Linked DNA regions of Homo sapiens: region 2 is linked to region 1. Evidence: fine-mapped expression QTL. A gene starts in region 1. The other region holds a variant in brackets. All regions are shown on one strand. Distances are from middle to middle.

Region 1 (4,383 bases):
TGCCCAACTTTCTTACCAAACCCTGTTGGGTAAAGGCCCAATTGAAGGAACATCCCTATCAAACCTTGCTCAGCAAAGGTGCAAGGAACATCACTGTCACTTTCTGAGGGAACAAGGGCCAAACTGCCTGATCATAGAACGTTTTATGGATAGATATACTGGTAAGTATATTCACATGGCAAGCCATACTGCCCATTCCCCTCCTGCCCTATAAGTACCCCAGCCTGTAAGCAGCAGTGGGCTCTGGCATTAAGCTGATCCCCCATCTCTGTAGGTTTTTGCCATATACCTGTGTTGCTGTTGAGCTGCCCTTTGTTTTTTTTTTTTTTTTTTTTTTTTTTTGAGACGCAGTCTCACTGTATTACCCAGCCTGGAGTGCAATGGCGTGATTTTGGCTCGCTGCAACCTCTGCCTCGCGGGTTCAAGTGATTCTCCTGCTTCAGCCTCCCAAGTAGCTGAGATTACAGGCATGTGCCACCACGCCCCGCTAATTTTTGTATTTTTAGTAGAGATGAGGTTTCACCATGTTGGTCGGGCTGGTCTCCCACTCCTGACCTCAGGTGATGCACCCGCCTCGGCCTCCCAAAGTGCTGGGATTACAGGCGTGAGCCACAGCGCCCGACCTGTGTGTCATTCTTTAACTCTCGTCTTCCCTTCAAAACCTAACAATATCTTAAGATCAAAAGCATTCTTCATTTAGGTTTCGCTTTAAAGATAATATAGATCTTTGCCAAAGTCAGTAAACAAAGATGAACAATCCTTGTGTCAGGCCTCTGAGCCCAAGCCAAGCCATCGCATCCCCTGTGACTTGTACGTATACGCCCAGATGGCCTGAAGTAACTGAAGAATCACAAAAGAAGTGAAAAGGCCCTGCCCCACCTTAACTGATGACATTCCACCATCGTGATTTGTTCCTGCCCAACCTTAACTAAGTGATTAACCCTGTGAATTTCCTTCTCCTGGCTCAGAAGCTCCCCCACTGAGCACCTTGTGACCCCCCACCCCTGCCCACCAGAGAACAACCCCCTTTGACTGTAATTTTCCATTACCTTCCCAAATCCTATAAAACGGCCCCACCCCTATCTCCCTTCGCTGACTGTCTTTTTGGACTCAGCCCGCCTGCACCCAGGTGAAATAAACAGCCATGTTGCTCACACAAATCCTGTTTGGTGGTCTCTTCACACGGACGCGCATGAAACCTTGGTCGTGGGCCCTCGTGGTAGAGCCCATGTCCCCCAAGATTTCTTTGGCTGTGTTACCTTAGATTTGAACAAGCACTGTACCTAAGGCGGGCGCCTTCCTCCTCCCGCTTTCAGGAATGCCCTGCTCTGCCATTCTTTTGCTTTCTCACTTCTCTAATACACTTGCTTTCACTTTAGTCCGTGGACTCGCCCCGAATTCTTTCCTACGCGACATCCAAGAAGCCTCTCGCTGGGTCTGAGTGGAGACCTCTTTCTGGTAATAAACGGACTAGGGAGATTCGACTTTGAAGGTGAAAACAAAAACCACCATCCAGTTTATAAGAAGGCGCTCGAGGCCGGGAACGGTGGCTCAGGCCTGTAATCCCAGCACTTTGGGAGGCTGAGGTGGTGGGGCGGGGGGAGGGAATCACCTGAGGTCACGAGTTCGAGACCAGCCTGACCAATATGGTGAAAACCCGTCTCTACTAAAAATATAAACATTAGCCGGGCGTGGTGGCGCACGACTGTAATCCCAACTACTCGGGAGGCTGAGGCAGGAGAATCGCTTGAATCCGGGAGGCAGAGGTTGCAGTAGGCCAAGATCGTGCCACTTCACTCCAGCCTGGGCGAACAAGTTAAACTCTCCATCTCAAAAAAAAAAAAAAAAAAAGGGCGGCACTGGAAACAGCTGGGAGTGACAGGGCCAGGGATGAGGGATCGCAAGCTGCTGGTGAGAAAGGAGCTCAGAGGCTGCCTGGCCTACGGGCCAGGAGACCTCAGCGCAAAAAGCGCAGGACTCGTTCCCCTGCTCTACAGCTGAGTGCCCAGGACGGATCTCACTGGCTGAAAAAAACAGAAGAGAAGGCACCCAATGCAAAATCAAATGTCAGCGAACGAGGGGTCCTTTAACAGGCGGCCCACACGGCCCCTCCTGGCGCCGAGACCCAGCCCCTCCGGGCCACCCCGGCCAGGTACGACCAGCAGGGTCACCTGCGCGCGTCCCCCGAGACGGGGCCTCCTGATGTGAAGCGACCCCAGTGGCACCTCACACGATTCCCGAGGGTTGCGGGCGGCCTCTCCTCAGCCCTGCAGCTCCCACACGCGGACACCGCGGGCCTCGGCCATGTCCACTGACCGACCTTCCTCGCCGGAACTCCTCGCGCATCGCCGGCCCCTCAGCGGCGACTAGCGCGCGAACATCCTGGAAGACGCGTTGCCGGCCCCACGTGAGCCGACGCCCCAAAGCGCGGCTGCTGGCGCCGGCTACGAGATCAAGGTCGGCGCGTGCGCGCTTGCGCGAGACCGGCATTCTCAGCCCCGCGCCGGTTTCCAGGGAGCTGGGCGCATGCGCCGCGTAAGGGGCCCGGCCGGCGGAAGGAGGTGCTACTGCCGGAAGCGCCGGCGCGCTTGCGCAGTAGCTGAACGCGGGCGTTTCTTTCCTCCCTTTTTTTCGAATTGGTTTTGGGGGTAGATTCGAGTTACAAAATGGCCGCCCGGAGCGTGTTCGGCGCGGTTCCCCCAGCTGTCTCTGGCTGAACCGGCGCTCTCGCCTCCCTGCCGAACACAGCGTGAGGAGCCCCCCCAGGGATATGGTGTTTGAGTCTCTGGGCTTGCCGAGCACTAAGTCCTCTGAGTTCCGCAGCGCAGCACCGGAAGCGGCCGAGCGCGCTCAGCCCGGCGACCCCTGCGGGCTCCAGACCCCTGCGCCGCTGCGCCCCGGGTTTCGCCGCAACCAAGACCCAGCGAGTGCAGCGGCGGCCGCCGAGGAGGTGAGGAGCGGCGGCGGGCGCGGGAGGAGAAGAGGCTGAGGGCGGGAGCCTGGTGCTGAGAGCCCAGGGCCGGGAGGGCGGGAGCGGGCTCGGGCCTGGGAGGGGAGTGCGAGTGCAGGGCTGGGGACTGGACCCTGGGGAGGGAGGTGCGGGTTCAGCGCCGGGGGACGGGCCCCTGGGGAGGGGTGCGGGGCCGGGGGACCAGACCCTGGGGAGGGGCTTAAGGGGCTGGAGGACGGGACCCTGGGAAGTGGGGTACAGGGCTAGAGGTCGGGACTCTAGGGAGGGAGCCTGGGTCGGGCGCACGGGCCGGGCGGGGCGCGCGGTGGGGGAGCGACGGGTGGAGGGTGGGGTGGGATGACAGCGGCGACGCAGCCCCGGCTGTTTTTGAAGCGGGGCCCGGGCCCCACCGGGCTGCGGCGTCCGACTCGAGTGAGACTCTCCCCTGCGGCCCCGCCGGAGGTAGGGGGCTGGCAGGGCTGTCCTGGCGTGGTCTTCTCCGTTTCCTTCCTAGCGATTCCTCTCGAGCTTCCTCTCCCCCTGGCCGCCCCTCGTCTCTCTTCTCTTGGGCGCATTACCTCTCTGGCCTGTCTTACTGCGTTCCCGGGTTATTCATCACCCATTTGCTCGGTTCCATTAAGAACCAGCTTGGAGATTAGGTATTTCTGTCTCCTTACTTGGCCCCCTTGTTGTTTTCCTCCAACAAGGCACTTCACTATTAAGTGTAGCCAAATCTGTGTTTTCGTTTTAAGGTGATGTTGACAAGTTGAGCTTTCCAAGGGCAGAGCTACACCAGATGCCAGAGACCACATAACTATATCAGGCACAAATAATGTTTTTTTCCAGTTTACCTAGACTTTCAGTCTCCCACCACGTTGCTTCATACCTAGAAATCATGTCTAATTTGGTTTTTTACCCACAAACGCAAACGTTTTTTAAATTCCCTTTTATTGATTGTTTGATTGAGACTGGGTCTTGCTTTGTCACCAGGCCTCAGTGTAGTGGTAGCTCACTGTGTAGCCTGAAGCTCCTGGGCTCAAGTGATTCTCCTGCCTCAGCTTTCCAAGTAGCTGGGACCACAGGCGTGCGCCACTACGCTCGGCTAATTTTTTATTTCTATTCATCTAATCTATGTCCATCTTTATTTTCGTAGAGACCAAGTTGGTTTCCAACTCCTGGCTTCAAGAGATCCTTCCGCCTCCCTTAAGTTCTTCATAACAGTAGCTAGACATAAGACTCCAGGTGCCAGGCCTTGTTCTGAATATTTTACAGAGGGTTTTTTCTCCCCCCCACTTCTAGCATAAAAGTAAAATGTATTGTCTGAAGTGTCATGCTTTGAAATAAAATAGGGATTTGGTAAAATATTTGTAAAAATCTGGTTTGTAATCCAAGTTATTCTTCTTCCATGCTACAACTTTTACGTTTTGGAGGGA
Region 2 (4,383 bases), 57 kb before region 1:
TTCTGCCCCCTTGCAACGGAAGCCTTCTGGGGCTGTGTAGGGCCGGCTCTGCCTGGAAGTGCAGATGCCGGAAGCCTCAACCAGAGGGAGCCAGCAGTGGCCTGCCAGCCGCATGCCAGCCCCAGTGGGCTCTGTTGCCTCCCATAGGATTAAACATTTGAGCCCATACTTTAATATCTGAATTTCATCTAAAACTCTAAAGAGTTTCAGTTTCTCTGAAAAAAAAAATCGGAAGATCTGGCAACACTGGGTCTAGGTCCTACGTCCTACCTAGAACAATGAGCAGGGGCTACACAGGGGCTGCCACCTTGGCTTGGAGCCTTTCATTCTCTGTCAGTTCCCTGCAACTCCCTATTTTCTCTCCAACGCTGAGGCTGGGTTTCAGCTGGCATTTGTAAAATTTTGGGGGGCTTGTATTTTTATAGGAGAAAATTTTTTCTTTTTGTCTACACCTCTGTCAACAATGGCATGGTGAGATGTAGGACTAGTGGCCCCAGTGGATCAGGCCACCTGGGTCCCTCTGTGGCCCTGCCCATGTGGACACTGGCCTGAGCCACGTGACTTGCTTTAGCCAGAGGTCCAGCAGCGCGTTAAACACACACACGCACTCATGCATGCATGCACTCACACACACATGCACTCACGCACGCACATGCGCGCGCACACACACACACACACACATGCACACCACACACGCTTGATGAACACTCTGTCCTCTTTGAACCCAGAATTTGGGGTCAAGATGAGAGACCATGTGGAGAGGGACTTTAGAGAGGAAGGGAGTGCTCAAAGAATAATAAGAACGCGTCAAAAACCAAGAAGCTGCTTTGGAAAGGTGACCACTGGCCAAATCTAGGACAATCTGAACATAAAAATAAATTATAGTCACAAAAAATTATACTCCATTGAATATAACAGGAAACCAGGAATCCATACAGATATAAAAAATAAATGAATGCACTGAGAATTTGGTGAGGAATGGAGATATTTGCAGAATTTCAAAGTACCTACCCACAAAATGGCAGAGAACATGAAAAAAGAATGACTTTGGCCGGGCATGGTGGCTTACGCCTATAATTTCAGCACTTTGGGAGGCCGAGGTGGGTGGATCACTTGAGGTCAGGAGTTCGAGACCAGCCAGGCCAACATGGTAAAAAGCCCATCTCTAATAAAAATTATCCAGGTGTGGTGGCACACGCCTGTAATCCTAGCTACAGGGGAGGCTGAGCCACAAGAATCACTTGAACCTGGGGGGCAGAGGTTGCAGTGAGTCTAGATCGTGCCACTGTACTCTAGTCTAGGCGACAGAGCCAGACTCCGTCTCAAAAAAAAAAAAAAAAAAAAAAAAGGAATGACTCTATAAGAGAGATGCTGGCAGACACCACTGTTGTCAAGTGATCAAAGTAAACATCAAGTGACAAATCGAAACCAAGCCCCACCCTATGGGAGGCAGTGAGAGAAACAAGGTATCCATTTGCGACAGTGCTGCCAGACTGCATAGTTGCTTGAGTAGGAGGAAGAGCAAACAAAGGGAATTGAGGAGAGGAAAAGAAAACGAATCGTTCGAAAGTGTTATCCTCCCAGGAGAACTGGAGATGTGTGCACCAGAACACCCGAACAGGGATGGTCACGGGAGCGTTACTCATAAGAGCCCAAGAGTCCAAATGTCAGCATCCAGCAGCTCAGCAGTGGACAGACAAGTTGTGGTCTAGCCACACGTTGGAATGTTATTTGGCAATAAAAAGGAATGAGGTACTAATACACGCCACACCATGGATGAATC[A/T]TGAACACAAGATGCTAAGTGGAAGGAGCCAGTCACAGAAGACCATTTATACAAAATGTCCCAAATAGGCAAATCCGAAGAGATGAAAAGTAGATTTGTGTTTGCTTGGGGCTGGAGTGGAGGCAGGAGGAGGGGTGACTGTCAATGGGCGTGAAGTTTCTTTGGGGGCTGAGGAAAACGTTCAGATGGGGGTGATAACTATAGAACCCTGAATACACGAAAATGGAACTGTATCTGTAAAACTGTATACACTGGATTGTATGTATAAAAGGGTGAGTGTTATGGTATGTGAATTATCGCTCAATAAAGTTGTTATTTAAAATAGTAAAAACAAATTGTAGGTAGATTTAAAAGTTGAACTAGTAAAGTACTAGAAGGAAAACAAGCAGAACTTATCCTACGCGAAGGGTTGGACCAAGAGGATGGATGTGATCAGATGTTGTTCTGTATATTTTATTTGAGAGATAACATAGACGGTGAGGAAGCAAAAGGACTGGGAGGCGGGAGGCAGGACCGCTGCAGTAACCCGGGCAAGAAACAATGAGGGTCTGAAGCAAGGGGTAGCAGTGGGCCCTAAGAGGGAAGGAGAGAGACGAGAGGCATTTGGGAGCGAGAACTGAAGGGCCCTGGTGTTGAATGGGTGATCACAGGAGAAGAAAGACCTCCTTCCTTCCCATTCTTCCCATTCTTCCAACGCAGAGTAAGTGCCACTTCCTCGGAAGCCTCCCTGACTCCAAAGCTCGGTGGGGTTCCCCTCCAGGGTCCCCCCACCTCCATATCAGAGCACTGATCACAGGGACTGGCCATGGTCTCTACTGCCCTCTGGACAGCTGGGCAGCAGGACCTGGGTCCTGTTCACCATCAACCCCAGCACCCGTCAGCATTCAGCATGCTATGAATGTTCAATTAGTATTTGCTGAGCAAAAATGCGAATGGATGAACCAGCCTGTGATACTTGCCAGGTTTTGGCTTCTGAATTCATTCACTATGTTGGCCATTCTACCATGAATGTACTCCAGCTTACCCCTGAGACATGAAGGCAGCTGGGGTTAATGTGGAGCCTGCAGCCCATGCCTTCTGCTCCTGGGTCTGTGCTCCATGTGAGGTTAGAGGATGCCAAGGACTGAATGTGTGTGCCCCCCTCTAATTCCTCTGTTGAAGCCCTAATCCTCAATGTGATGGTATTAGGGGTGGGGTCTTTGGGAGATGATTAGGCCACGAGGGTGGAACCCTCATGAGTGGAATAGCGTCCTTAGAAAAAAGACTCCAGGGAGTTATCCAGCTCTTTCCACCCCATGAGGACACAGCCAGAAGACGGCCATCTGCAAACCAGGAAGGGAGCCCTCCCCAGATGCCAAATCTGCCAGCACCCTGCTCTTGGATTTCCCAGGCTTGAGAACTGCGAGAAATAAATGTCAGTTGTTGAAGCCACCCAGTCTGTGGTATTTTTGTCGTAACAGCCTGAGCTGATGGAGCCAGGGAGGCTGCATGGTCATGAGCATGCTGGAGGCTAGTAGGGAGCAAAGGAAGGGAAGACTGGGGTGGGTGTCAACCCCAGGTAGCCTATGTTTATCCCCGGCCACTGCTCCTCAACTTCATCCTGGAAACCCAGCTGTCACCTGTCAGGAGAGGCTGCTCTGTCTCCTCAGAGCATAGGGCTGCAGCCAAGGTGGCTCAGGGGTCCTCCTCTCCAGTTCCATCCCAGATGACTCAGATGCCATGGGCAAGTGTCCCACCTCCAAGCTCTTATGGCTGTAGGGCAGGGGCTGAGCTGGAAATGTCAGCAACACCAGGAAGAACATTCAGAATATCTGCCCCATGTGTCAACTGCTCACCACGTCCACGGTCCACTCCCGGGTCCAGGCCACCACCATATCTTGCCTGGATTGCTCTTAGGACCTCCTGACCCTGTGGCAGCTTCCAGTCTCACCCACGACAGCCGCCCCGTTTCCCGCACAGCGGCCTGCAATCTTTTAAAGACAAACATCATACCTTGACGTTCTCCTTCCTTACATTCTCCAGGGCCCCCTGGACAACTGCTCTCAGGATAAAATCAAAACCCTTCACCAGCGCATGAGGGTCTGCATGATCTGGCGCCCACATCTCCTTCCCCTCTCTCCCTCACTCACCAGGTTGCAGCCATGCTGGCCTCCTTTTCACCAAAGCTGCCAAGCCCTTTCCCACCCCAGGGCCTTTGCACCTGCTGTTAGAAGCACTCGAAGCTCGGCTGGGTGCGGTGGCTCATGCCTGTAATCCTAGTGCTTTGAGAGGCCAAGATGGGAGGATTGCTTTAGGACAGGAGTTTGAGACCAGCCTGGTCAACATAGCAAGACCCAATGTCTATTTTTTTATTATATATTTAAAATTTTTCTTAAAAAGAAGCACTCTATCTGCCCACTCCACCCGTCCACACCACATAACCCCCTCCATCTGCCGATCCCTGCTTGCTCCATCACACCACTCCCTCCATTCCTTCCCACATAGCAGCTTCCTCCACAGTGGTTGTTTCTACTTGTGCGTCGTTGCATCACTCCCAACCAGAAGCAAATCTGCATGAGCATGGGCACCTGAGCACGGGCACCTGTTCTGTCTTGTCCCCA

The links. PIP is the estimated chance that this variant, and not a neighbour inherited with it, causes the effect.
Region 2: its variant is fine-mapped to the expression of NUP50-DT in subcutaneous fat (GTEx, PIP 0.98). The same link has a PIP of 0.9 or more in macrophages and sun-exposed skin.

The regions. Positions count from the first base shown.
Region 1 is chr22:45,161,347-45,165,729 of GRCh38, forward strand. NUP50-DT (NUP50 divergent transcript) reads right to left here and starts at 2,435. Exons shown (of 3, transcript NR_038956.1): 1 at 2,231-2,435. NUP50 (nucleoporin 50) reads left to right here and starts at 2,579. Exons shown (of 8, transcript NM_007172.4): 1 at 2,579-2,950. RefSeq lists silencers at 2,091-2,140, 2,911-3,140, 3,171-3,350 and an enhancer at 2,508-3,030.
Region 2 is chr22:45,103,912-45,108,294 of GRCh38, forward strand. No RefSeq gene overlaps it. Among named protein-coding and RNA genes, the nearest start is that of NUP50-DT, 58 kb to the right of the region's middle. The variant A/T (reference allele first, on the strand shown) is at 1,784.